Linked DNA regions of Homo sapiens. The protein of the gene in region 6 purifies or fractionates together with the protein of the main gene of each other region. This does not show direct contact. Each region holds a gene or a part of one and is shown on either strand. Other genes may lie near its edges.

Region 1 (4,077 bases), on a different chromosome or scaffold from region 6:
AAATTCCACATCTGATGTCATGTGACAGGTCACAGTCAAAACTTTGTTTTGGCCGGGCATGGTGGCTCACGCCTGTAATCCTAGCACTTTCGGAGGCCGAGGCGGGTGGATCATGAGGTCACAAGTTCAAGACCAGCCTGGCCAAGAGGGTGAACCCCTGTCTCTACTAAAAATACAAAAATTAGCTGGCGCAGTAATAGGCACCTGTAATCCCAGCTACTTGGGAGGCTGAGGCAGGAGAATCGCTTGAACCCAAGGGTGGAGCTTGCAGTGAGCCGAGATCATGCCACTGCATTCCAGCCTGGGTGACAGAGTGAGACTCCGTCTCAAAAAAAAAAGAAAAAAACTTTGTTTCATGAAGAAAATTATTTAAAGTATTATATAAAGTTACCCGCAGGCTATGTGTAGAAGGTATATCTAAAACATAAATGAGACCCCTGTTTCCACAAAAATTCAAACAAATTAGCCAGGTAGGATGGTACACGCTTATATTCCCAGCTACTCCAGAAGGCTGAGGTGGGAGGATGGCTTGAGCCTAGGAGGTCAGGGATGCAGTGAGCCGTGATCATGCCACTGTACTCCAGCCCTAGGTGACAGAGCAAGGCCCTGCCTCAAATAAATAAATAAATTGGCCGGGCGCAGTGGCGCACACCTATAATCCACACACTTTGGGAGGCCGAGGTGGGCGGATCACCTGAGGTCAGGAGTTCGAGAGCAGCCTGGCCAACATGGTGAAACCCTGTCTCTTTTTTTTTTTTTAGTTTTAGTAGAGGCGGGGTTTCACCATGTTGGCCAGGCTTGTCTCGAACTCCTGACCTCAGGTGATCCACCCGCCTCAGCCTCCCAAAGTGCTGGGATTATAGACATGAGCCACCGCGCCCGGCCAGTGAAACCCTGTCTCTACAAAAATATAAAAATTAGCTGGGCATAACGGCAGGTGCCTGTAATCCCATCTACTGGGAAGGCTGAGGTGGGAGACGCTTGAACCGGGGAGGCGGAGGTTGCAGTGAGCCAAGATTGCGCCATTGCCTTCCAGCCTGGGCAACAGAGTGAGACTCCATCTAAAAAAAAAAAAAAAGAAAAGAAAAACAAAACAAATAAAATAAAATAAATAAATTTTGTGTTCAGACTTGGGTCACATCCCCAAGTTATCTCAGTATATATATATATACAAATATTGAAAAATCCAAAAAAAAATCCAAAACACTTCCAGTCCCAAGCATTTTGGATAAGGGATACTCAAACTCCAATGTCAACTCCAAGTCCAGACCATTTCCCCCTCATAAAATGAAGTGTTGGAGTCCCACTTGAAAATCCAGGAGTGGCCGGTACAGTGGCTCACACCTGTAATCCCAGCACTTTGGGAGGCTGAGGCAGGAGGGTCGCTTGAGCCCAGGAGTTTGAGACCAGCCTGGGCAACAGAGCAAGACCTCATATCTACAAAAAAAGAAAAAGAACATCAAGGAGTGGTTCTGTGACCATTTTATTCAATCAAGAAGAGTATCTAACTTAAGCCCAGTTCTTTACCAATAGGTGCTTTGAGATCTCACACTGCATTAGGCCACTGTACTCCAGTGTCCTGTCACTTTCCAGGCCCTGGGACTTATGAGTTAATCAACCCTGTCCTCTTTACAACCATCTTCCAGGTCTGAAACTATGTATGGCAATAACTCCAATTACATAAACAGCAGATACTAAAAAACTACTGGCGTTGGTCTTTTATGATTTTGGAAGTGGCAGGTTTCTTCCAAATTTATATTCTTTTGGGAAACCTTTGAAGTGTGTGGGAATTTCTTGAAAGCATGCAAGCTCATCACAGGGTGAGTCAGCCTCAAAAATCCCCAAGGTCAGAAAGATGTCAGCTTGGGTTTAACACTTGAGGGGGGTCATGCAGTCACAGTCACGTGCTACCTACACTTTACAAGTACTTTACTAATCTACTAATCTAATGGAAAATGATGTTTACAGGGGAAACCAGCAACGCCACAGGGAACAGAGGGCAGCATACTTTGAAAGTGTGACTCACCTACTACATAATTACCCTTCACCAAAAGGAATTTGTGATATAGTACCGGAAAACTTTTTTTTTTGTTTAAGGTAGGTTATTACAAAGCCCAAGGCGTACGAACAGGCCAAAGGGTAGGCACATGGACATACAGGGCAAGAGCAGACAGGTATCTCTTAGGGTAACTCCCATAGCTGGATCTGTATGGCCAGTTGACTAAGTCACGGTTTTACAGGACTGTTAGAAATCAAGTGAAGTCTGTATACTAGATTCTATTGGAAGAAAATGGTCAAAATTAAAGTCCAAAAAAGGATTTTGGAAGGAAACCTATAATGTAGCATGTAATGCCAATGGCAGCAAATACTCCTAGATAAACTGTTAGAGCTGGATGGAATCTCAGAGTCATGTTCGAACCCAACCTGCTGTTTTACTGTTAAAGACACAAGACCAGACAGAAAGTGACATGTCCCAGTTCACACAGCTACTGCGGAGCATGGTTGAGACTTGCCTTCAGCATCCTAATGCCCCAGTCACCGTATGTCCTATTAGAATAGATTCAGCTGATCTGGATTAGCAAAATGGAGTGGATCACCACTGCATTCCAGATATCACAAAGCCTCAACTGTCACCCCCTCTTTTGCCCAGAATATTAAGACCTATTACTGGTCCTTTGATATTTCAGATTTTTTATTTGTTAAATTATGGCTGCAAAAAAAAGGCAATTGTTAAACTTACACCTTTATATTCAGTTTCACAATTTACTGAATGTCTCCTCTAAGTCAGGAATCATCCTGGGACATGGGAAGCACAGATGAACAAGATGTTTCATTACGTATCGTGCATTCCGTAACAATGCAGGCTGCCCCTATCGTGTGACTATGATGGAAGGAAGCATTTTGAGCAATAATGACAAAGGAATTTGATTATTTCTGTCTGGTTCCTGGTGAGAACTAATCCACATCACAAAAGCTCAATAGTTTCAGCCCTCTTCTGACTAACAAGGGCAAGAATAGCAGAACAGCCAGGATGTCAGCACCAATTCAAGACATACACTCTGAGACTTCAACAGCAAGAAATTTCTACTCAGAACCCTTGGGGAGACCAGGGTAAGGTCTGGCAACAGAAGACAAGCTTGACTTGACACCAAAGTTATAACTCCTGTATCTGGCCAAAACCTACTGGAGACATGAGTTCCAAGAAAGCATATTTGACTTGTTCAAACATTTCAACTTTGGAACAACTGGAAAAGTGACAGACAAAGTTTGCTGGACGAGAACCCAAGGCAGTTCCACCTCATTCCTACCTCCCAGTGACCAGCAAGTTTGGGTGGAATCTCCAATCCCAGCTTCTCCAGCTCTCGCTCCCTGTACTTCTCATACTGCCGGTACCCTGCATACCCGCCGCCTGTCACCAACAGAATGGGCAGGGGACGCAGCAGGAACATGGTTCGGGCAGGGGCAGTGTGGATTTTTCTGGCATCTGTAATAAAAAACAGGACAATTTCAAGCCTGAGAGACAGGAATAGGGAAGAGTCATGCAAACACAGCACCAACAGGAGGGTCAGGAAAAGTCAGCGCACCTCAGAAGCCCTCAGTAGGGGACCAGGCACATGGCTCACGCCTGTAATCTCAGCACTTTGGGAGGCCGAGGCAGGCGGATCACGAGGTCAGGAGATCGAGACCACGGTGAAACCCCGTCTCTACTAAAAATACAAAAAGAAAACTTAGCCGGGCACAGTGGCGGGCGCCTGTAGTCCCAGCTACTCGGGAGGCTGAGGCAGAATGGCGTGAACCTGGGAGGCGGAGCTTGCAGTGAGCCGAGACTGCACCACTGCACTCCAGCCTAGGTAACAGAGCGAGACTCCATTTCAAAAAAAAAAAAAAAAGAAGCCCTCAGTAGAGGTGACTGGACCCTCAACATATCTAGCAGGCAGGTGCAACCTTGGGCCACTACTCAGACCCTCCTGTCTCCAAATTCTGTCAGTACGTACAGGACAGGCATCTTTCCTATAGAATTACAATGCACCTCAACTGCCACCGCAGTCACAAAATGTATTAATAGATGAAAACACT
Region 2 (4,077 bases), on a different chromosome or scaffold from region 6:
AATACCTTCAAAAAGCATGCATCCCGGTTTAGGAAATCAGACTTATACATAGCAAGCCTAAGAACAGAGACACAGGAAATCAAGCATGTTCATGGTAAGGTTAGGCAGGCCAATGGAGGCTGGCATGCGCCAACACCATGGAAATTTTCTGCTCCAGTCTTTTGACAGATTATTATTACTTACCTCTTGCTTGGCATTTGTAAGCATTTATCACCCTTTGATACTTCTAACACTCACTCTTCCTTGGGGCAAAAATGGCTCAGAAAAACAAAAACAAAACAGAAAAAGGCTCACCTGTACCCCCACCCTGGGCCATGTTCACTATACCAGATAAACGGGATGACTGTAAAGATACATAGAGTTGCAGTGGGAGATGGATCAGGACCGGGAACCTTTCTCTGCTGAGATGCCTGCAAACATCTGACACCACAGCACATTATTTGTACCCCACCCCACCTCACCCCACAGCCAGCTTTTCAGGGCCATAAACACTACATCGCTTTCCCGTTCCAGGCTCCGAAAAGTCTTAGATCAGGTCCCTGAGACCCCAGACAGAATCCAAGGAGCCTTCCCTCGGCTTTTGAATGGAAAACTTGCAGGGCATCATGGATGGTTTTTCTCATTATGAAAACAAGAAAGTCAGGGCAAAACTCACAGCCAGACACAGACTTCAGTTTGGATTCAGCATGGGGCTTTCTCCAACAATTGGTCAAACTTACCCCCACTCAAAAGTCCACTTTACTCTAAGTCAGAGAGGCTTAGGTATGAGGATCAATAAGGAGAGGTAAGTGGCAAAGGTCAAAGATTCTGACTCTATAGAGCTGTGCAGTCTAATATAAATTACATAAATAAATTTAATGTAATTCAAAATTCAATTCTTCAGTCATATTAGCCACATTTCAAGTGCTCATGTAATTGGTGGCTTAATTATGTTAGACTGTGCAGATACAGAACATTTCCATCATCAAAGAAAGTTCTATTGGACAGCACTAATATAAAGCATTTAGATGTTTCATTTGAAGTAATGAGTACGGTGTTCTGGGAAGTTCTGCTGCTCTCCCCTGGTTTGTTGGGGAGGCTTTAGGTGTTCTGTGGGATGCTGAATAGAGGGTGTGCATTTTCATAATGAAAGAAGCAGTGTGCTGGAATTCTCATGTAAACCCAAAAGTTCTAAGGCAAAACTTACAAGGCTACAAAGTGGGCCATCTTAGCCTGCATACGTGGACACACAGTCTTTCCACACTTTTGCTTTCATCACAAGGACCATAAAGTCAGATACTGTAACTATTTTACTGACAAAAAGCCCACATGCTGCCTAGTCCTAGGCAGAATCATTCTCGAGATCCCCTTGGCTGGTTGTAAGCATTCCCCGGCGTTACTTTCCAGTGCAGCATCACTGAAGAGAAAAATATCTCAGGTCAGGTCAGCACTCTGGACAGCGACAAGCTCCTTCCCAGTGTATTTCAGCACTCCCGTCTGCCCCAAACATCCTTCAGAAGGAACTATCCCCTCAGAAACCACCAGGTGCCTGGGAAGGGACTTCCCACCCACTTCTTCTAACACCACAATCTTGTTGTCTTCAGAACAAGAGAGTGTTCAGCTATGAAGCTTCAAATACTCCTCACCAATGCCAAAAAAATTCACTCCTCAGCAAGCCAAGGTTTGCTACAGTCTGGCCCCAGACCGCTTCTTCCACTGCTGCAGCCTGGCCAATTCACCATGCCTGACCACACTAGCTGTTTCCCTCTTCTAGCCCTTTGAGTGGGCACTCCTTTCCCCACCAGAAATGCCATTTTCTTATCTTTGACTGTTCAGGTCCTACCCATCTCTAGAGGCCCAAGCCAACCCCCACTTCTCTTCAGAACCTTCCCCAAAGACTTTAATCTACACTGATTTCCTCTGTTGTCTGACATCCCAAAGCACTTCTAGTTTAGATCATGCTTTAGAAACTTAATTACCTATCAATCATCTTGTATCATTACCAGGTTCCTATGTGGGTTTTGCCAGAACTAGCTTTTGCCAGCAACCAGCCATGCAGTCACAAGTCAGTCATGCCACACTTCTGAGTCATTTCTTGATTAGTAAAATAACTATCTTGAACTAAAACATTTCTAACATTTTTGAGTTTAGGTTTCTCTCAGAACAAGTTTCCACCTAGAAGAGTGCAATGCACATAGCAGGGTCTTCAAATAATAACTGCAGATGCAATGAATATCTTACAAAAACAAAACGAGGGCATATCCCAGGGCTGAGGCCAGCCACAGAATCCTGGTTTAGCTCCCAATGTGGATGACAAAGGCTTCAATTCCACTCAGTGTGTGATGATAATCGGAAAGATATCCAGTTTCTGCCCTGACCTACGTCAGCATAGAAATATCATCTATGGCCTTGGAGGCATTTTCCTCCATAAAGACATTCACCTCCAACATGTGGAAAAATACCACACAATAGGTATTATAACAATGGCAGTGACAACAATGTCTTGCATATAAATTTATCTTATATAGGTCAGCCAACACCTGACAGCAATGTACTAACTTCATTTACTAATTACACACAAGCCCAGACAGACTAGGAAAAGTAACAAGAAGCATAAACATTGGTGGTGCCCCCAAATAAAACTCTGGCTGGTCTCACGAGTCAAGATGTTCCAAGAATTAGGTGGCAGGGAGACAGACTTAAAATTTTACCTCAATATTACACCTTCTGTCAAAATGATAGATAGCTATAATACCTCCTCATAATTAACATCCTGTTATTCTCAAATAATTTGGCTTATGGTCAACACACAGTAAGATATAGGGGAGATTCTTCCACCTTTGAACAACAAAAAAGGCCTAGAAATATTTAATGACTTTTACCCTGCAAATAAAGATAAAACTAGAACCAGACTTAGTTGGAATAATTCTACTAACATAGGCACCACACACACACACACGCACACACAGACATACATGCACACACATATCCCAATACACAACTCAGAGAATTCTTAGTAATATAAAGAAAAGAGTGATGAAATTCTCTGACCCTGAAATTGGAGCTTTCACCAAATGGTTGTTTAAAATGCTACTGCCAAAGCAAATTGGCCAGCATCAGTAAAGAAAAAGGGAATTTTCATCACTGGGAAAAGTTCTTGGAATTGCTCTGCCAGCCATTCACTCTCATCCCAGAAAATCACAAGATCTGAGAACAAAACTTAGCATCTGATCAATCCACTCCAGTTGGCCCAAACTGGATCCAGGAAAGCTAGCTCAGCATGGAGGCCAGAAGTCTCCCATCCTAGAAGGCCTTTCCCAGAGCTGGGCATCGTACGTGCTCAGAGAAGCAAATCAGGGAGACAGCAGTGCAACGAGGTTAGAAGAGTAAAGACTAGCACTCAGGGTTCTCTATGATTTTTGTCTCCATATACTGCTCCAGACACACCCCTCACTACTGAATTACATGCACCCACCACCCAAACCATGCCATTTACCTTCATGAATCAAAGATCCTCTACATAGTCCTGCTTTTGCACATGATTTTTCTCCAGTAGTCCTGGAGAAAGTCTTCAAGTCTTGATATCTCAAGACCCACCAGCCGGGCGCAGTGGCTCACGCCTGTAATCCCAACACTTTGGGAGGCTAAGGTGGGTGGATCACTTGAGGTCAGGAGTTCAAGACCAGCCTGGCCAACATGGTGAAACCCCCATCTCTACAAAAAATACAAAAATTAGCGGGGTGTGGTGGTGGATGCCTGTAGTCTCAGCTACTTGGGAGGCTGAGGCAGGAGAATTGCTTGACCTGGGAGGTGGAGGTTGCAAGGTTGCAGTGAGTCAAGATCGTGCCACTGCACTCCAGCCTGGGTGACAGAGCAAGACTCCATCTCAAAAAAAAAAAAAAAAAAAAAAAAAGACCCACCTCAAGTACTTCCTCTTGCAAGAGGCTTTTCCAGATCACCCAAGCCCAATGTGATCTTCCATCAGCTTTCTAGAACTTACATTCTGGAATTAGCAAATATTACTTATATTTGGACACATATCTCTTACCACCTGTAAGGCAGAAGACAGGGTCTCATAAGCCTCCACATTGCTCCAGA
Region 3 (4,077 bases), on a different chromosome or scaffold from region 6:
TTCATCCAGGAATTTAATGTTCACATGTATTTCCCTCAAACTTTCTTTATTAATACACTATCATGTCTCTGGCCTGTTCATTTATCCTTTTGTCATGGAAACTTCCCTTCCTGCCCTGACCAAGTTATAGTAGTTCTCATTCCAATATGCTGTCAGAAGATGCTGGACATCATCATTAACATCACCTGTATCTGTCTGCCTGGATCCATTGCTCCTAAGCACACACCATGATTCTGTCAGCAAATGAAAAAATGGTATTTCCTCTGCCTGAAAGTGCATTGCATCATCCTCCATCTACCATTCTCACCTTTATCCAGCTAAATCTTCCTAATCCTTCAATATTTATTTTAGCAAGCATTCTTCTGAAAGGTTTTCAGAAGACTTTCCTTGATTTTCCAGGCTATGCTAAGTGACTCTCCACTATGATCTCATGGTGATGAATGAGCTCTTATAGTGAAAGTCAAATCACACCACTCCTCTGCTCAAGATAATTCAAAGGCCCCCTATTTTACTCAGAGTGAACATCAAAACTTTTATAATGGCCTAATGTGCCCTACAGAATCTGCCCCCTTTTCCTCAGTATCCTCATTTTTTTTACTACTCTCTTCTTTTCTCTAAGCTTAAGCATGCTACCCCATTAGTGCCATGGCAATAGCTGGGATGCTTTCCCTAGATAGCCACATGACTAACTCCCTTGTCTCCTTCAAACCTTTGCACAAATGTCCCTTTATCACTGAGGCCTATTAAGCCACCCTATTTTAAAATGCAATCTGCATCTCTCCTCCCTACCTGCAGATTCCTAATCTTCTTTTCTTTGCTCCATTTTTATAGCACTTATTCCCTTCTATCAAACTACATATTTTTATGACTATTGTTTATTGTCTGTTTCTCCTTATGAGAATGTAAGCTCCACAGGGAAAGATATTTTTATCTGTTTTGTTCACTTGAATCCTCCAGGTGCCTACACTGATGACTGGAACTTAATAGGTGCCCAGTAAATGTGTTTGAAGGAATGAGCCCTGATTATATTGTGCTACAATTTCTTCCTTGTCTGCCTACCCACCACCAAACTGTGTACTTTCTGAAGGCAGGGGATTTTACTATTATGTCTATTTACAATATCTTAGCACATTTCCTCATAATAGTGGGTTCATAATAAATGTTTGCTAAGTGCATGTATTCATCTCTGACCTCCCCAATCCGTAGTTTTGCAGGGTTTGTGATGACACCATGTTAAATCAGAATACAAATGCAAAAATGTTGTTTTCTTAGTAGGGAAGCATCATTATAAACTATCACAGTATCTGGGATCTGCCGAGATGAGAACTCCAATACGGATCAATATAGTGAATATTTCTCCTGCAGAGTTTCTTCAAAGGTTAAAAAATCCCCAGAGTCCATTTGGCCTTTTCCCCTTCCTGTACCTATACGTGAAACATTTATTTTAATAAGCTAGAAACTAAAGGGAAGACTGAGAATTGTAGAGCTTGAAAAATAGTATCTTGCCTTCTGTGACTTTTCTTTTTGTTTCCTTTCTCAGAGCTCTTCCTGCCATGATGCAGTGGGTCCGCACGCAGAAGCCAGGAGAGAGTGGCATCAATATTGTCACTGCCGATTTTGTAGAACTTGGTGACTTTATCAGCACTGTCATAAAGCTCAACTATGTCTTTGATGAAGGAGAAGCCAACACTTGATAGCACTACTTGGAGTTTCCATGAATAAGATGGAGAAAGCTCATTGTATTAGGGCATACTATCTGTAAACACTCTGATCTTCCTATTCCACTGAGTCTCTGAAGGGAATAGGGCTGGTAGTGGGTGGGAAAAGGGGAAAAACTGTTTCTTCAGTGATTACAATCATACTCTTCATTACTATAAATATTTCATTTCCCATTTGATGAGCAAAATCTACTTCTAGTGTTAGGAATAAAAAAAAAAGACCAGTAACTTTGTTTTTCAAAATTAGTCTTTGTAACATAGAATTCATGAGTGTTTACTTGATTAGGTTCTCTATTTCCAGCCTATGACTCCTACGCTGTCTATACCCTGCAACCTTTCTGCTCCCTCTCTTGCTCGCTCTTTTTAATCAGATGCTGTATGGGAATCAAAACAATTGAATGCCCAACATTTTGTGTATTACATTGTTGTCTTAAAACTTACTAGTTTTGTGGGACTTGTTATAATGCTCTATAGTCATCCACAGTTGGGCAATCATAGCTAATTTTTGGTCATAGAAAATCTGCATCAAATCAGTTTCCATGCATCAGTAATATTGAAGGTCATAATCAGTGATTTTTGTTATATGAAAATAATAGTGTTTCACAGTATTTCTATTTAAGGCAGCTATAAATATAGGAGAAAAATGTTTTTGGAGAGCTGTGAATGCCAATTTCAGAGGGAAAAATGGTTGAGGGGTGAAAGAGATGTATGGCATTTTAATTTGGCAATCTCTTAAATAATATTGCCCTGCAAGTACCCAGTAAATGGTAAGGTACAAGTGTGTTAAAATTGAAAACTCTGAAAATAACTCTTTAAAAAGCCCTCTTAATGATGCTCTTGATGAAAGAAAAAGACAGAAGGAAGGAAGGAAGGAAGGAAGGAAGGAAGGAAGGAAGGAAGGAAGGAAAGGAAGAAAGGAAGGGAGGGAGGAAGGGAGGGAAGAAGGGAGGGAAGGACAGAAGGAAGGACGGGAGGAAGGAAGGAAGGGAGGAAGGAAGGAAGGAAGAGAGGGAGGGAGGGAGGAAGAGAGGGAGGGAGGGAGGAAGAGAGGAAGGAAGAAGAAAAAGACTGCAAGCTTTCCTGCCAATTTGGGATTTTCAAATATTTAATTCTAAATTCCAGATTTTAAGGAAGATTTTTCAAGAAACTGCAAGTTTTTGACTTGAAGGAAAGAAAGAGGAAGGCTGGTAGAAGCAGTTAGAGCAATGTGTTTGAAATTATGTCCATGAAATCACAGGGATCTCTGAAATATCTTTAGGAAACTTGAAATTTATGAGGTCTGAATGGACTTGTTTAAAATTGGCTCTGACTCCTCACTTCTGAGTTTCATCCTATCCGAGGGATGAGATTAAGGCAGAGGCAAAAGTTTCACACAAAGTTTCTGCAACCTAACGTTTAATAGTCCGGGTCTACAGGGAAGAACAATGACACAGCTTGAGCGTTACTTCCTCCTTCGTGTCATTGTGATATTTGACAACTCTAAAAAATAAAAAAAAAAAACTTAGAGCACAATAATCCTTGCCTATGTACTTCACAGGAATATTGTGAGGTGTTTATAAAATTATAAAATTTGATGAAATTCTTACAATTATTAATTATTTTATTTTCATGTTTAGAAATAATCACACCCCAATAGTTTCCTAGGATAATACAGTCCATGCAAAGTAGGGTCATAGAGAAATAAAAGCATGCCCTCAGCTTTTAATGAACTTAAATGTAGCACATATGGCTTAATCTCTTAGACTTAGATAAGGGAGTTCAATTCAAAACCATATATGTCAAGACCACAAATAATCAAGAGTTGATTTCAAGATTATAAATACTCATGATCAGAAAATAGTACTTATTAGCAATTAAAGGGAGGAAAAGAAATTGTTTATACTGAAGAGAATGTTTATGAGGAGTGTGTATGTACCTGTGGTATACCAAATAGCATACATGTACACACAAAAATGTGTGTATACATTTGGGTTGTGTGTATACATCTTGCCATATACAATATACAAACATATGCCCATTCCTGTGATAGCATACAAATTCAAACATACAGAAACACACACAGATATGGACACAGTACAATTCTTCTTTTCAAATGAAGACATTGATAATATTAAATAATTTAATTTTAAGACTGAAACCCTTAATATTGTGTGAAAAAGAGTAATAAAACCTTTGAAAGTAGAGTAGATGATCACATCAAAGTATTTTTGTAAAAGAATTCTAGTGTAGGACTTAATTATTTTTAAAATATATTTCTTCTCTTCTTTCCATTTTCCCTTCCCTTGTAGTTTTATTATCTTTCTGTCTTTTACACCTGCTCTTTATGTGAAAATGTATATGAATCCTTTTAAAATGATTA
Region 4 (4,647 bases), on a different chromosome or scaffold from region 6:
AAGATGCACCAAAGACACATCTAATTGGAGTGGGGGCAGTGGGTATCAGGGAAGCTTCCTGGAGGAGGGGACATCTGAGGTAAGCCATGAAGAAATGAGTAGAACTTAGCAGGCAAAGAAAGGGGAGAAGAGCACCCTTGGCAGGTGCACAGCCTGAATATGAAGGGGAAAGGACTACAACTAGTTCAGCAGGACCACAGCGCAAAGCACCCGGTGAGGAATGGTGGCAAAGGTGACCAGAGAGGCTATGCGCAGGCCAAAGAGCCTGAACTTCATCCTGTGGACAGCAGCGAGCCACTGAACGCTGCGAAAGTAACATGGATTACAGTCAGTCTTGCCCAAGAGGTAGAGTTCTCTGGCATTGAAGCTGATCTTACAGGGACAAAGCTACAAAGCAAAGAAACAGCACCCGGCATAGTGCCTGGCACACAAGAGGGACTCCCCCAAACTAAGTTCAGCCCGAGTTCCTCAGGACAGCCTGCTATTGAGGAGAGAGCCACTGGTCACACAGATCCAGATTATTTGAGGGGGACAATTCACTCAACTGCACTAATTGTTTCTTCATCTATAAACCGAGTCCTTGTGCCTAGAAAGCACCAGGGTCAAACCTCAGTTGCTTTCCCATGTAAGACCCTGAATGTTGGTACCCAATCAAAGGCTTTCTGATTTTGGTTGGCTCATGAACCCTGCCTGGAAAACTCTCCCACAGGGCTTCCCCCGATCCCTGCACACATAGCCAAGACTAAATCAATCCTACTTACTCTCCACGATTCAGAGCAGGTTCAGCTGACTCCCTGCTCTAGGTGCCTCAGGAAACCCTCTGGAGATCTCTAGGCTAAACCCGAGGTCTTCTATTGAAACCAACTGTTTAAGTACTTTTCTTTCTCTCCAGATGATTGGCTCCTTGAAAGGACTATTTTATCCTTAGCACCTGGGGCCTGACACCTGGGGGCCCAGGAGATGCTGTAGGCTGACTGGCCCAGCAGGTCAAAGGGGCACAGGAACAACGGGCAGGATCCAGAGAGGGGGAAGGAAGAAGTCAGAGGCAATCACCCCCTACCTCGGGAGTGACTCAGGCCCCGGAGAGAACTAGGAAAGAGTCAGCCCGGCTGGGGAGATGAGGAAATGGGGAAGAGGCCTCTCCCACCCTTTACTTCAGTGCAGATACAAGACTGCCCTGTTTCACAGCGGGATCCTGACTGCACAGTCTCCCTTCCATCAGCCAGACTTCCCCACCTCTCTACTCCATCCCTGGGACCTAGGGCTATGGGGGAAGGGAGATGCCTGCACCCCTCCCAGGCTATCCACCCTAAGGGACCAAGGGTCTCTACCAGAACCCTCGCCCAACCAACCCTCCAGAATATCCGGCCTGTAGCTGGAGTTCCCCATCAAAGAGCAGGGATGACCTCAGGTATCATCTCATTCAATCCACTTTATAGAGGAAAAAACTGAGGCACGGAAATGGGGAAGCCACTAGCTCAAGGGCACACAACCCATCAAAGGCAAGGCTTAAACCCAGACCTCTTGACCCCTGGTCTGAAACTCCACTAACATGCCAATGTCACAGGCACCTCAGGATGCTCAAGACACGGCAGCTCGCGCTGATCACCCCGTGGATCCTCAGAGGAGGCTGGGCTGCCAGAGTCTGGGCAAAGTGTATCGTTTTCGTTTCGCCCTCCCCCAACCTTTGCTTCCCCGAGGCGGTCCCGCTGGGTGCCCACTGGTACTCACAGGCTGCCCGAGTACTGGCTGCCCCCAAGGAAGCCATACTTGTCCGTCTTGCGCAGGGCCAGCCCGTTTATCTCTGAATCTGAGCCCATGGAGCTCACATCATCCGCCAAGGACTCCAAGGTCCCAGACATGAGGCTCACGGAGTCCAAGTAACTCAGCGTGTCCGGGGCCTGCCCTCGAGGCCCAGAGATGCCAGGTCCCAGGCTGGACGTGGAGCCCAGGTCTTGAGAGTTTTCAGCAGGCTCCGGAGCTGGGGTCACGGTCACGACAGCTACCGGAGCCTCACAAGTCCCAGAGGGGCCTGTGCCAGGGCCTGAGGGGTCCTCAGGAGCCTGTCCTGCTGATGCTGATGTTGCTGCGGCAGCTCCATGCCCACCTGTCACTTGTCCTGATGCACTCCGTGCAGTCACTCCTGAGGCCACTGTGGTTCCCGGCTTGGGGGCAAGCGGGGGTTTGGCGGTCAGGGCACCAGGAGCCGTTCTGGAAGGGGTCCTGGTAGGGGTCCCGGTGGGGGTCCCTGGTCCTGGGGCGGGTGAGGGTCGAGCCTCCTCTGTCTTCGGCGAGTCTGCCCCTGCGGCCAGAGCCCTCGATGTCTCAACTCCAGCCACTGCCGCGGGCTCTGGGGATTCCGGGCCGGAGGGGAGCTGCGGCTTTGGGGCTTCGGGCGAGGCCTCCAGGGTCAGCACCACCACCGTGCTGCCCGTGACAGCCGGGGCTGGGGCCGGGGCTGGGGCCGGGGCCGGAGCAGAGGTCTCGGCCGACCCCGGGACCCAGGCGGGCCGCGCCTCCCCGGGGGCCACCAGGGTGACGGGGGCCGAAGTGGCCGTAGTCACTGGAGGTCCCGGAGCCACCACCACGACGGGCCCGGCCCGGGAACCCCGGGGCGGCGGCGAGGGGGCCGCGGGGGCGCCATGACGGCGCGGCGGGGCCACCAGGGGCGCCGTGCCCGTCTCCATGGCCGCGGGCCGCCCCTCACATCCCCCCGCCGGGGAGGCCGCAGAAGGCGCCGCCCCTCGGGCCTCCCGGCGAGGCCAGCCGAGAAAGGGGAGAGGGCGAAGGGCGCGGCTCGGCGCGCGCCGGGGGCGGAGCGGCCGCTGGGCGCGCAGAGGCGGGGCAGGGGTCGGGGGGCGCCGCGCGCCGGGGTCTCTCTCGAGCCCTCTCACCCCCTCGCGCGCTCTCGCCACCGCCCCCTCCCTCCTGCTTGGGGGCGAGCCGCCGACCTCGCGCCTGCGCACACGCCGCAGAGCCGGCTCCGCGCCAGCGTCTCGGCGTTCCACGCCTGCGCGCGGACTGGCTCATCGCGCTCCTTTTTTCTCCCGCCTAGTCAGAGGATTTGGACGAATAGTGGGAGAGAGAGAACTGGGCTTCTGCCAATCGTTGGAATCGTGGGCGGGGCTGGAGGCGAAAAAGGGGTGGGTCATCTGGAAAGAGGAAACGGAGAAAGCTAGGGCTGTAAGACCAATCAGAGGACGAGGAAAGGCAGGGGGCGATGGGACGAAAGAAATAACCAATAGAAACGCAGGGGTCTGAACCTCCTGGCCAATGAATATGACTGAAGGGTGAATGACCGCGGAAGGGCGGAGGAGGAGGCAGGGCTGTGCGAGTAAGAGGTGGGGCCTGGAGGCTTCTTAACCAATAGGAATGGTAAAAAGGGAGCCAATGAAAAGGGGAGCAGGTGGAGGTCAAATTGACAGGCAGTGATGTCTATTTAGGCGGTGACAGACAGCATCCGCAGTCAATAGGAAGAGCTGAAGAATTCTTTAGGTCTCCCAAAATGGTCAGTAAGGAATGACAGCTGGGAGGAGGCGGGGCAAGCTAGAGATTAATTCGCCCCGTCAGCCAATGATCGTGTTCTCCCACTTTGGCCACAGGACAGGAAAATAGATAGCTGTCTCAGCCAATGGGAGCATCCAAAGGGCAAAGATGCTGCCAGCAGGCGGTGCCAGCCCAGGGATAGTCGGTGACAACCGGAGACAAGCCTTATGGGAGGGTGACAGCTGGGGACAGCACGGAGAAGGGGCGGGGGCATTAGTGCAGCCCTCAACCAATGAGTGCCGCGCTGCCCCCTCTCGAGTCCTTTCCGGTCCCCTATTCTTCGTTCAGCTCCTGAGCCCCACACTCTGGTGGTCTGTGGGACCCTGAGCCCCACCACAGATCCAGTGCCCTGACCCAGTACTCTCATCCTTTACTCTATAATTCTCCGATCTCGGCCCCCAACTAACCCCAACACTCCAGGCCCAGGTGGCAATAGCCAGAGCCCCCAGATCCTATAAGCAACCCATATCTCTGCTTCACCCATTTCCTGCGGGAATCCCAACCTCCAAGTCCCTCTCCTCAGTTCCCATCTATCTGAGCTCCTCCCCAGAACCCAGGCTCCAGTTCCTCAGACCTTATCCCTCTGAGTACCCCCTCCATTTCTTCTAGTGGGGATCTCAAACCCCAAATCCATGAATCCCTAATACCATGAACTCCCCATATGTGTGTTACTATTCTTTTGGGGATCCAAGGCCCCAGTCCCGTCAACCCCTCTCCCCTCACTGCCACATCCCTCTGTGCTCCTCATGTTCCACTGAGAATCCCGACCTCAATCTCATGAGCGCTCCAGGTTGTCCTTAGATCACAAGCATAAAGACCTGACGTTATGAGCTCCAACCTTCCAACTTCTAAACGCCCTCTTCTTTCTCTGACCCCCATATTCTGATTTCCATATAGCATCCACCATCCTGGAATTCCAGTGAGACCTAGCTCCCGACTTCTCAGCTCCTCCTTGGTTTCTGAGTCCTCTAAGGTCCCTCACTCCCAACTCAGCCCCATGTCCTGTCAATTCCCACTCAGTGTCTGATCTCCTTCTCCTCACCTTTCCCATCTCCCGTTTGACCCAAGCTTCCTGAGCTCTCCTCCCATTCCCCTTTTTGG
Region 5 (4,077 bases), on a different chromosome or scaffold from region 6:
CTACATTGAAACAGGTAATTCATAGCACAATACAGCAAGTATTAATCTAGACTAGATTTCTGTTGCATCTCAGTCAAGAATATGATTTCCAACAGAAGTTCAATACAATGAGAATGTTTTATCAAATTAATTATAATGGAAACTTGTCCCATATCATGCCTGCATTTATGAGAGGTATGTTTTGAATGTCTTCATTAGTTGTTGAAATGCAGTGAATTATTGACACTCTCTGCTGTTTGTCTTTCTAGGCACCCAATAACTATAGAAGTCCCATCTCTACCAGTCAACCTACCAATCAATCCATGGATGATACAAGAGAGGATATTTATGTCAACTATCCAACCTTCTCTCGCAGACCAAAGACTAGAGTTTAAGCTTATTCTTGACATGAGTGCATTAGTAATGACTCTTATGTACTCATGCATGGATCTTTATGCAATTTTTTTCCACTACCCAAGGTCTACCTTAGATACTAGTTGTCTGAATTGAGTTACTTTGATAGGAAAAATACTTCATTACCTAAAATCATTTTTCATAGAACTGTTTCAGAAAACCTGACTCTAACTGGTTTATATACAAAAGAAAACTTACTGTATCATATAACAGAATGATCCAGGGGAGATTAAGCTTTGGGCAAGGGCTATTTACCAGGGCTTAAATGTTGTGTCTAGAATTAAGTATGGGCATAAACTGGCTTCTGAATCCCTTTCCAGAGTGTTGGATCCATTTCCCTGGTCTTGGCCTCACTCTCATGCAGGCTTTCCTCTTGTGTTGGCAAGATGGCTGCCAACTCTTGGCAATTCATACATCCTTGTTTCTGTCTGGTAGAGAGTTTGCTTCTCAAATGGAGCAAACAAATTTGATTATTTTTTCATTGTTAAATAGGCAACATGACCAGAAAGGATGGAATGGCTTAAGTAAACTAAGGGTTCACTTCTAGAGCTGAGAAGCAGGGTCAAAGCACAATACTGGGCAATTCAGAGCATGGTTAGAAGAGGAAAGGGGAGTCTCAAAGCTGGAGAGTTTACCAACAAATATTGACTGCAGTGATTAACCAAGACATTTTTGTTAACTAAAAAGTGAAATATGGGATGGATTCTAGAAATGGGGTATCTCTGTCCATACTTCTAGAATCCACTCTATCAGCATAGTCCAGAAGAATACCTGGCAGTAGAAGAAATGAATATTCAAGAGGAAGATAAATGCGAGAGGGCAATCCTTTACTATTCTCATATTTATTTATCTCTCATTCTGTATAGAATTCTTGCCGCCATCCCAGGTCTAGCCTTAGGAGCAAATGTAGTAGATAGTCGAATAATAAATAACTTAATGTTTTGGACATATTTTGTCTACTTTTGAGAATTATTTTTAATATGTAAATTCTCTCAAAAGGGTCAGGCACCTAGTTATTATTTTTTAATGATTATGTGAAAGTTGAATATAATATACCACTAAAAGTGACAGTTGAAAGTGGTGGCATAGGACGGTAGGGTAGAAATTTGGGAGGGAAAAAAGAAATTGGGAGGGTACAGGCAACAGGAGAAAGGAATCAAACCACAGAAAAATACAAAGGGAAACTTCTGCTTCACTATTCAGACAAAGACAGCCCTAATGACATCACCAACAGTCAAAGCAATTAGAGACCATACCTAATATTGTTTAAATTCTAGATGTAGGCTAACAATGAAAAGTATTTGCCAAACTGAATAAAACTGTCATGGTTACCTTGAAAGGACAATGGTTATTGTTAAATATAGTGATCATTCATGTCTAAAAGATTCATTATTTATCTCTAAAGATTTCTAAAGACCACCATCTAGAAAAGATTCATTATGAAGGCTGTATTTAAATATCAAAGTTGTGGACTTCATGATAATCTTAAATAAAGCAAATCCAAATTCTCCTGTTGCCTAGACAGATTCTAAGATGTAATTTACACTTTTAAGCTAATTAGTGAGTATTTTATGATTTTAGCCTTAAACACCATGTATGCCAAATAATGCACTTGTTTTGTGAATTACAGAAATGGTAAGTGCCCACATTTCTGTGAATTATAAAATTTGTGAGTTTCTTTTAACCCTTTTCAGGAGTGAAAAAATAAAAACGACCATTTCCTGGTTGTGCTTAAGTATATGCAAGAAGGGTAAACTCTCATTTTTATTATGTTTGCTTAAAGATCTTTTTATACCTGGATTCATGAAATGTTTCCACAAATATATTAGTGTAACAAACTTGAAAGGCAGTTTACAAGAAAGCACTCTACTATCAGATCAATCAAAGATTCTGTGAGTGAATTTATTGGTTTGCATGGTGAAGCAAGCTTAGCATCAATTAAAAGGTAAATAATTTCTTTTCTGAATGGTAAAGACAATCAAAATATTACTTTCTGGAAAACTCCAATAACCAAATTCTCAATGATTAGTGTATGTGAGCAGGAAAACATTTTTACAGTTGTAGTATGGGGAAATATAAATCCAATTTTAAGAGAGAAAATTATGACTGGGTGTGGAAGGGACAGTATAGTCAGATACCATTGTCATGGTGGTTTTTACTGGGAACTTCATGAAAGACTTTTGTAGCAAACCACTGCAGTATTGCAAAGCCTCCAGAACATTTGGAACTTGTCTCTTTTTCCTTGTGTGTGTTTGTGTTTTTGGTCTCTCATTCAAAATATTGATGAGAACTATTTACTCTGTCCTTTCTTCTCTATATATTCTTCCTCTACAGAGTGTAGGGTTTTTTCAGGAATTTGGAGCCATCTGAAGTCCTCCCAAAAATTCTCTGACGTCTTCTGATGCTCCTGTTATACCCTCAGGGGTAATGCTTGTGAAATTCCATTCATTCATTTTCTTTCTCTGGACATCTTTACTTACCAAAGCACTTTCATTGTCATCTTTTTAACATCATTCTTAATTCGTGATAGTTTTGGGACTCTCCCTAGTGTATGTTTCTCCCCCTCTACTCTTTTGCACCTATGATTCTGATTGTTACTAAGAAAGCAGATGAAAAACAGATCCACAGAATAAACGATCAGAATTCCAGTAAATTCTATTTTAAATACAGATACTTTTTACAAGTTGCTGCTTTGGAAGCAAAATGCTTCTTAAGTTTTACATATATATATATATATATACATATATATATACACATATAATTTATATCGATGGATAATACATTAAGAATCTATGCTTCCTTTGAATGCCATTAATATTTATGTTAAAGTAACCAATGAAAGGAAATTACTTTGTTATAATAAGATAGGAAGACTTGTTAATGGAGTACACAGTTTTGTCAGGGAAAGAACACATCTTATTGAACTATGATGACTATGCATTGACTATATTATTATAAGAGATACCTTCAAACTTTATTTAAAGAACTTTAGGTATAATATGTTGAGAAAATAAAATAGAAATTTCATTTACTTGTAATCATGCTTAAAATGGGAGGCAGGTAGGTGAAGATATAATTTTTAGTAAAAACTCCAATTTATGTTTTAAGTAATTCAGTGTATTACTAAAATACTATATATATAAACTTAAAATACATGGGTTATCAATTTAAAAGACAAAGTAAGTAAAAATACTTTTAGTAGGCATTCGTGGATTGTGAACATCCAAGTTATATTGGTTTGTATAGAATGGCATTAAGTAAAAATTACAGCTGTATAACAGTAGTTTTCTAAATTGAGAGAGTCCACATTGTAATTAGAGATCACTGTGACCAAAATGCTTCTCCTTGATTTATAATGATGTACTGTATTTTGTACTGCTTATATGAAATTTCAGCAAGATTGACGATATTATAAAGATGCTTATAAAGTGTAAGTGGAGACGCTAAATTGTGAGTACAAAGTTTCTTTTTCACAACAGTGATAAGAAAATATCTTTAAAAAATATAAGACAATATAAACATGTCATCATTAGTTTAGCTACTATTAAAATGTAACATCTAGAAAGTACTGATCTCCACCTTCAGACTTCTGTATAAGTATATTTTTTCACTGATCTGTTCATTAGAGTTCTTCCAGCCAAGACTCTGGGCTCTTAAAACATGTATCTGAAAACTAAAAACAAG
Region 6 (4,077 bases):
GGATGGGAATTTTGGCTTTAGGGTACAATCACAGAGATGACAAGCTAAGCAATAGGATTGCTGAGACCTTGGAGGAAGGGAGAAGAACAGATGTCCAAAATTCCCACATTTAGGGAGAGGAAAGAGGAACTGAAAAGGACACTGAGAGGATGCAGAAAGAGAGGTAGGAAGTGAAGGGGGTTATTTTGGAGCCGCGGAAGTTAAGGGAATCCATAATATTAACAAGGGAGTAATCAGTGATGTTGGATGCCTCCTAGAGAGAGGCCACTGAATCTGGATATTATAGTGCTACCAATAATTTTTGAGAGTTCAATTTCATGAGAATACTACAGACGGAAACTGTATTTAATCGTACTTAAATCCTTTGTGTTTTTAAGATGTTTTGTTTTGACCATTAGGTGAAGGTAACTCGTGCTGATGGCAACCAACTGACTCTTGAAGAAAGAAGAAATAATGTAGTCATAACAGTGACACAGAGAAACTATACTGAGTACTGGAGCGGATCTAACAGTGGAAATCAGAAAATGGAAGCTGTTCAGAAAATAAATTATACTGTCCCCCAAAGTGGAACTTTTAAGATTGAATTCCCAATCCTGGAGGATTCCAGTGAGCTACAGTTGAAGGTGCCGTCTGTTTCCCATCATTGTGTCACTGCAACAACACCATTACAGTTGTAATCTTGTGGTAGGCACTCAACCTGTCAGAACTGAAAGTACATAGGAAGTGGACACATGTTTCTGTTTCACAAAATGGAGGAGAGTGGTAAAAGTAATTTAATGACAGTGGCTGAAGGTTAGACTAAATTTTTCCTTGTAAGTTCATTTTGAAGAGCACAGTAAAATATAGCAATGTGAAGATATGATGGAGAATTTCCTCAAATCCCCAGTCTAGTGTTTGAGGTCAGTCATTTGAAATTTTATTTTGGCAGGAATTGAAATGAAAGATAAATATATATACATATATATATATACACACATATATATGTATATGTATATGTGTGTGTGTATATATATATATATATATTCCTTTCCTGTGTTTTAAAGCTATCAGTTTCTTTACAGTATAAGCTATAAAATGATGAAAATCCAATGTCTGGTGAATGTATTTTTCTTGCATTAAAAAAAAGTGAAGATGAATTTGGTCTTTAATAATTGTTCAGCAGGTAACATCTTTTCTCAAGGTGTTACTAAAGATGAACATTTACAGCTCCTTTTTCTTTTATTATAGGCCTATTTCCTTGGTAGTAAAAGTAGCATGGCAGTTCATAGTCTGTTTAAGTCTCCTAGTAAGACATACATCCAACTAAAAACAAGAGATGAAAATATAAAGGTAATGCTTACAATTCACTTGAGAATTACAATATAATTGGACTATCTTGCTTTTGATATGTACATATTAATTAAGGTTTTTTTCTAGGTGGGATCGCCTTTTGAGTTGGTGGTTAGTGGCAACAAACGATTGAAGGAGTTAAGCTATATGGTAATCTCTTATAGAATCTAAATTTATGATCTATTATAGAATCATCTTTTTATTCACTTTTAAGTTCTGGGGTACATGTGCAGGTTTGTTATATAGCTAAACTCATGTCATGGGGGTTTGTTGTACAGATTATTTCATCACCCAGGTATTAATCCTAGTACCCATTAGTTATTTTTCCTGATCCTCTCCCTCCTCCTACCCTCCACCCTCCCATAGGACCCAGTGTCGGTTGTTCCCCTCTATGTGTCCATGTGTTCTCATCATTTAGTGTGCACTTATAAGTGAGAATATGTGGTATTTGGTTTTCTGTTCCTGCATTAGTTTGCTAAGGATAGTGGCCTCCAGCTCCATCCATCTTCCTGCAAAGGACATGATTTTATTCTTTTTTATAGCTGCATAGTATTCCGTAGTATATGTGCACCACGTTTTCTTTATCCAGTCCACCTTTGATGGGCATTTAGGTTGAGAATCATCTTAAATGGTGTCTACCTTATATCTACACTAAACTTATTAATTTTTATAACTCAGCCTCATACCTTTTTAGCCTGTCGTTTTAACATTGCAATCAAATAAAAAACCTTTTTTATTTCTTCACCTATGTTTGCATTTCCAATTTAAAATAGATAACTAAACCTTGTTTTATGTTTAAAATTTAAATTTCTATTTGATAAGCAATATATATTCATTATAGAAAATTATACAATGTAAGAAAAATGAAAAAGAAAATAAAAAGTGCTATCCATGACCATGTAATTTTGCTAATTCAGCTTTCCCAATGGTGCCCTGTATTCCTTGCAATCAAAAATAGATTCTTGACTATGAAGCTACTGTTGCTCCAATCAGTATTACTTTAATCTTACCATTTTCTTTTTCTCAGTGTATGCTCTCTGTGTTTGTCAGAGAGGTTTTCCTGCATTCCAAAAGACTTTGAAGCTGGTTTAATTCAAGAATTTGTGTGTATGCATACAATTATGATTAATGTAGCTTCAGATGAGATCCTACTAGGTTTGGCAATAAATTAAACCCATCTACTGTTCTTTTCAGGTAGTATCCAGGGGACAGTTGGTGGCTGTAGGAAAACAAAATTCAACAATGTTCTCTTTAACACCAGAAAATTCTTGGACTCCAAAAGCCTGTGTAATTGTGTATTATATTGAAGATGATGGGGAAATTATAAGTGATGTTCTAAAAATTCCTGTTCAGCTTGTTTTTAAAAATAAGGTAAGATTTAAGGTAATGATGTTTAAAAGAAAACTTTATATTAGTGAAGTCTGAGAAATGTAATATTTCTTTAGAAAAGTATCATTAAGCCAAACTGGTTAGAAATTTATATTATTCTATTTCTAGAACTATGGTTAAACTTTTCAATATTTAGCATTACATATATATTTTCACTTGTGGAGTTATTGGGGATTGATAGTCTATTTGTAAACTATGGTTCTGGTCTTTAAGACTTTAACTCAGATCATGAAGCTGTTTCAGAATTTTTCAAATGGTTGAATTAATATTGCTCAGGAGTGAAATTCCAGTGGTAACATAGAATTCGTGTGGTGTTGATATTGCAGTGATATAAAGGGTGTGGGAAGGAGTGAGGCCATCTAGGATAATACGTAGAAGCAGAGCTGGGCTTTCATTAATCTATTTAATTAGCTGGAAACTAGCCCAGGGCAACTTTTCAATGAGCTTGATTACCCTGCATGTGAGGATCTGTGTGGAGTCTGGTCTCCAAGTGCACCAGTGCCTTTTATAGCCTAATGTGACCAGCTTGAGTAGGAAATCCCTTTGGACCCCAGCTCTGAAAAGAAACCTGATTGCATCATCTCATGTATATAAGAATGAGCCATTGCTGTCACTAACAACTGCTGCCCTCTCCATCCTCTTATGTAAAAAATTATTCCTTTAAATAGTGATTTGCAGAGTATGGTTCTTCTATTTCTTTTTCCTTTATTTGTTAAAATATTTGAGAAGTAACAGTAGTGATCTGTACTTTCTTTTTTAAAATTTGTATTTATTTATTTTTTGAGACTAGGTTATAAGACTGGCTAATTTTTGTATTTTCGGTAGAGAGAGGGTTTTGCCATGTTGCTCAGGTTGGTCTCTAACTCCTGGGCTCAGGAGATCCACCTGCCTCAGCCTCTCAAGGTGCCGGGATTACAGACATGAGCCACTGCGCCAGGCCTGTACTTTAGTTTTGTTGAGAATTATTACTCTCACTTTGATTGTTAAAATATAATACAAACTTCTATTTTTTTAGCTTATGAAAAGAGTTCTTAAAAAGATAACACTGTGTTTTGTTAGTGGTAGAGCACAATTTTTGACTTCTAGTGATCCTAGTAATTGCCTGACAAAGGTGAATTTTAAAGTAGAAGTTATGGAGGCTTAAACATCTCAGAAAGCAAGACCAGGTTCTAAAGCTGGTTACAGTGTAAAAGATCACGGACTTTGAGGAAGCAGAGTATATGAATAGCATACTTTCAAGTAATTTCTTAGCTATAAGAGAAAGGAATTAGTTTCAGTTCCATTTGCAACTATATATCTTTCTCTTATTTTTATGTGATAATCATCACATTTATAAAGAAACAACATAATTAGAAATGG
Region 7 (4,077 bases), on a different chromosome or scaffold from region 6:
AAGTGTCCTCCTGGACACTTGAAAATAGTTTACATAGATTGATAGCCCATGGGTTTATCATTGTGCCACATTCTTTTTAAACACCTCATACTTTTTTTATTGAATAATTTCTACATTTTGGATCTAGTCTTTCACAGGCTCTGAAATTTTTCAGATGGCCTTAATTGAACTAACATAATACATTATTTTTGAATGCTATCATAGGGAATATTAGGTGGAAAGCTGTTTAATAGTGTTATTTTCAACACAACTATTGTGGGTTTTGCTGTTTTTAGATATGGCCGGAACACACTCATTCAGTTCGAAGACTTTGGAAATCATAATGCATTCAGGTTCTTGAGAAAGTACCGAGAAAAATATTGTACTTTCAATGATGATATTCAAGGTAAAGCAAAAAAACTTCAGGGTTTTGATTCCTACTTTTTAAACATTTTTAATGTGCCCATTTTTTATTTGTAAAAATCTTTGTTTTTCTTACAGGGACAGCTGCAGTAGCTCTAGCAGGTCTTCTTGCAGCACAAAAAGTTATTAGTAAACCAATCTCCGAACACAAAATCTTATTCCTTGGAGCAGGAGAGGTAAGTTTTGAAGGCTTTTTGAAACTTAAGCCTATCCTCTCTTATAGAATTAGAAAATGGGCAGAATATTGATGTTTATGAAAGAGCATAGTGAGCCTGTAATTTTGTTGAGGTAGAGGATATGAAATCAAGAGTTCTGCTGTAAAACATGTAATTTAAAATATGTTTCGAGAGAATATCACGAAGAATTTTTGTTTGATTTGTAAGGGAAAAATAAACCAAATATTTCTTATGGCATATAATCTTCATATATAAAGTAATTCAAGCATTGCATCGTACTCTAGTATATATTAAAATTTATGTTTTGTTGAACAGGCTGCTCTTGGAATTGCAAATCTTATAGTTATGTCTATGGTAGAAAATGGCCTGTCAGAACAAGAGGCACAAAAGAAAATCTGGATGTTTGACAAGTATGGTTTATTAGTTAAGGTAAGGTATTTAAAATTTGGAGAAGCAAAAGAGTGTATTATATTTTTAGTTGGATTTTTAAAATATTATTCCTTAAAATCTTGTTTCTCATTGGAGTCTCCAAATTATACCAATTGGGACCTTCCACTCTCTTTTCAACAGATGTCCCTAGTCTTGTTGTCTTTTACAAAGACTTCTGCTTCATATTGAATTAATAATCTCTATGTTGGCATCAGACTTACTCTTTCTTGCTTTGTTGTCTTGCTCTTAAGAGATCAAATGGCCATTGTACAAGTATGATCGTGTTTGACACTCCTAAAACTAGGTTTTTAGTAGGAACTGAGAACTTCCTAATTAAATTGCAGTATTGCAGTAGTTTTGATATTTGAGCAGAAATTCTTTTAATTTTATTATTATTTATTTTTTTTGAGATGAAGTCTCTCTCTGTCACCCAGGCTGGAGTGCAGTGGTGCGATGTCACCTCGCTGCAACTTCTGCCTCCTGGGTTCAAGCAATTCTCCTGCCTGAGCCTCCCGAGGCTACCGTGCCTGGCCGTGAGCAGAAATTCTTAACCCTTTGGAGATCATAATCCCCTGAAGAAATCTAATAAAAATCTGTGGACCCTATCCCCAGGAAAAAAGCATGTGCTCCTGAAACCAATTTATGGATAATAAAGAGCTTATCTCCCAGATTAACTTAGTACCTTTGGGCCTGACTACCTTTGTTAGCATTGATTACCATTTTCACTAGCTTAAGAATGTCATATATCTTCTGTGTAACACATTGAATATAAGTAAACTGTTCCATAGTTAAACCAATCCAGTACACAATGCTGTTATATTTTTGTATGTACACATTAAAATATAATGGTATAGCTGTCGCTTGGCATTTATGTCTGTGGAGCAAGCTATCTAAATGTACTTTGTTCCAGTTCTAAAATCTTTTCTTGTTAATTAGAACCAGTATTCTATTAGTACAAAAAATAAAATGAAAAGTTAAAGTATGTGAATGAAAAATCTTGAGTGCTCAAACTACATGTAATTTAAAATGTAATAGTAGTTATATACCAGACATTGTTATAAGACTTTACATGTATTATCTCCTTTAATCATCTCAAAAAATCCTGTGAAGTTTTACAAATGAAGAAACAGTTTAAAAGGTCGAGGGAGTTTTCCAAAGTCATCAGCTTATAAGTGACGGAGGTAGGATTCAAAACCAAGTATCCTGACTGCGAAGCCTGTGCTCTGAATAATTAAACTGTGCTGCCTCCCAAAGAGGCTGTAACTACCATATTTACTAGTATGTAAGGCACAAGGATAAAACATCACATATTTAGAAGGCTATTGGGGGATGTATGTTTTGACTAGTACACAGTTAGTTTGGTACTTCTTTTTGTAATGTTGGTTTTCATCAAATATGTTGTGATTCTTTAGCATATTGGTAGGTCAGGTCTAACACAGTATTGGTAGCTACAATGTGTTTACTTAGCACAAAGTGAGAACCCTGTCCATCTCCATATTCATCATCAGATTATATATTTCTTTTCCAGTGTGCAGGTAGCTTGGCCTATGGGCATTAGGCTTCCAGTGTCTCCTGGTGATCCTAAACACTGCCCTTCATTTTGAAACTTTGAAAACAGTGGCTTCTTATGTCACTGTTTGCTCAGCCTGGTTTTCTCAGCCGATTGATGATAGTGTCCTGCTTTACTAACCCCTGCAGTTTCTTATCTGGAGTTATCTTGGAGTTCTGATGGAAATACACTTTTTCAGAAGTCTTCTTTTTTACCAAAATAAGAATATGAGTTCTCAGTTGGTTTTTGCATTCAGTATGTTTTTGTCTGCCTTAAATCTTTGAGAAATTCTTCATTGTTCTAGTCTGTCAGTGGTATCTCTTCTGGCTTTGTGGCATTACTACAAATTTAACTTTTATGGTTTTTGACCTGGGATTTGGAAAGGAAAGCATGTTTCTTCATTCAGCCATCTTTAACCAGAATTCCCTGTTCCTCTTGTTTCTGAACTCTTGGTAGTGCAAGTCCATGGTGTCTGTCTGCAATTCTGAAATCCTAAAGGCTTTGAAATTCCAAAATTTTTTCCAAAATTTATTTTTGTGACCAATCTGATTGCCTTGAATTTACCTAGAAGCGAAACCTGACTCAAACTAATAAGAAGCTCTTTGTAATCTTAACCTTTTGTACTTGATGTGACTATTCATAAGTTTGTTCAGTTGTGGAGTATCTGTTGGGAGGGAGAATATGTAATATTTGATATACGCCATATTGTATTTCTAAAATATGAAAAATTCTCAGCCAGGAGTGGTGGCTCATGCATGTGGTGGCTCAGCTTCCCACTTTGGGAAGCTGAGGTGGACGGATCACTTGAGCCCAGGAGTTTGAGACCAGCCTGGGCAAGATGGCAAAACCCCATCTCTACAAAAAAATCATCCGGGCATGGTGGTGTGTGCCCATAGTTCCAGCTACTCTGGAGGCTGAGGTGGGAGGATCACCTGAGCCCGGGGAGGTAGAGGCTGCCACTGCACTCAAGTCTGGGCGACAGAGTGATACCCCATTTCAAAATAAATAAATCAAATTAAATTAAATATGAAAATTTCTTAATTCCAAAACTCATCTACCCCAGATAAAGGACTGTAGGCTTTTGTGCCACATTGGACTTAGGAAGACCTCATAGTGTAAATGCATTTTTGAGAGGAACTAGAAAGTTTCTAGGAATAATGGTAGATTTGATTTTTGTTTTATATTTGAGTTTATGGACATGATGAAGATAGAGTTGGAAGGTATGGGTTGAAGAGGAAAGTAAATGAAAATGAAAAGACATTTCTATTGTAGAAACAATGTGTAACTCATAATGATGTCTTTTTATTTCATCTTTAATATGCATTGACTAAAAAAATACTGTATTTTATCTCAAAATTTAGGGACGGAAAGCAAAAATAGATAGTTATCAGGAACCATTTACTCACTCAGCCCCAGAGAGCATACCTGATACTTTTGAAGATGCAGTGAATATACTGAAGCCTTCAACTATAATTGGTAGGTAAAGTTTTTCTGATAAATAATTTTACTCCCTAACTGTAT

What was found.
Region 1: the proteins of CD109 (region 6) and PISD purify together in Homo sapiens (co-immunoprecipitation; one large-scale study listed by IntAct). This does not show direct contact.
Region 2: the proteins of CD109 (region 6) and NFASC fractionate together in Homo sapiens (co-fractionation; one large-scale study listed by BioGRID). This does not show direct contact.
Region 3: the proteins of CD109 (region 6) and PLCXD3 purify together in Homo sapiens (affinity purification with mass spectrometry; one large-scale study listed by BioGRID and IntAct). This does not show direct contact.
Region 4: the proteins of CD109 (region 6) and TBC1D10B fractionate together in Homo sapiens (co-fractionation; one large-scale study listed by BioGRID). This does not show direct contact.
Region 5: the proteins of CD109 (region 6) and CD226 purify together in Homo sapiens (co-immunoprecipitation; one large-scale study listed by IntAct). This does not show direct contact.
Region 7: the proteins of CD109 (region 6) and ME2 fractionate together in Homo sapiens (co-fractionation; one large-scale study listed by BioGRID). This does not show direct contact.

What each region holds. Positions count from the first base shown.
Region 1 is NC_000022.11:31,644,793-31,648,869, forward strand, and holds part of PISD (phosphatidylserine decarboxylase proenzyme, mitochondrial), read right to left. Parts: intron 3,485-4,077; coding exon 3,309-3,484; intron 1-3,308. UniProt on the Homo sapiens protein: Catalyzes the formation of phosphatidylethanolamine (PtdEtn) from phosphatidylserine (PtdSer). Plays a central role in phospholipid metabolism and in the interorganelle trafficking of phosphatidylserine.
Region 2 is NC_000001.11:204,835,029-204,839,105, reverse strand, and holds part of NFASC (neurofascin isoform 1 precursor), read right to left. Parts: intron 1-4,077. UniProt on the Homo sapiens protein: Cell adhesion, ankyrin-binding protein which may be involved in neurite extension, axonal guidance, synaptogenesis, myelination and neuron-glial cell interactions.
Region 3 is NC_000005.10:41,311,234-41,315,310, reverse strand, and holds part of PLCXD3 (PI-PLC X domain-containing protein 3), read left to right. Parts: intron 1-1,540; coding exon 1,541-1,694; 3' UTR 1,695-4,077.
Region 4 is NC_000016.10:30,367,497-30,372,143, forward strand, and holds the start of TBC1D10B (TBC1 domain family member 10B), read right to left. Parts: upstream 2,999-4,647; 5' UTR 2,688-2,998; coding exon 1,732-2,687; intron 1-1,731. UniProt on the Homo sapiens protein: Acts as a GTPase-activating protein for RAB3A, RAB22A, RAB27A, and RAB35. Does not act on RAB2A and RAB6A.
Region 5 is NC_000018.10:69,860,611-69,864,687, reverse strand, and holds part of CD226 (CD226 antigen isoform a precursor), read left to right. Parts: intron 1-248; coding exon 249-374; 3' UTR 375-4,077.
Region 6 is NC_000006.12:73,765,532-73,769,608, forward strand, and holds part of CD109 (CD109 antigen isoform 1 preproprotein), read left to right. Parts: intron 1-398; coding exon 399-623; intron 624-1,227; coding exon 1,228-1,329; intron 1,330-1,416; coding exon 1,417-1,479; intron 1,480-2,523; coding exon 2,524-2,700; intron 2,701-4,077. UniProt on the Homo sapiens protein: Modulates negatively TGFB1 signaling in keratinocytes.
Region 7 is NC_000018.10:50,920,181-50,924,257, forward strand, and holds part of ME2 (NAD-dependent malic enzyme, mitochondrial isoform 1 precursor), read left to right. Parts: intron 1-275; coding exon 276-385; intron 386-480; coding exon 481-578; intron 579-893; coding exon 894-1,007; intron 1,008-3,917; coding exon 3,918-4,032; intron 4,033-4,077.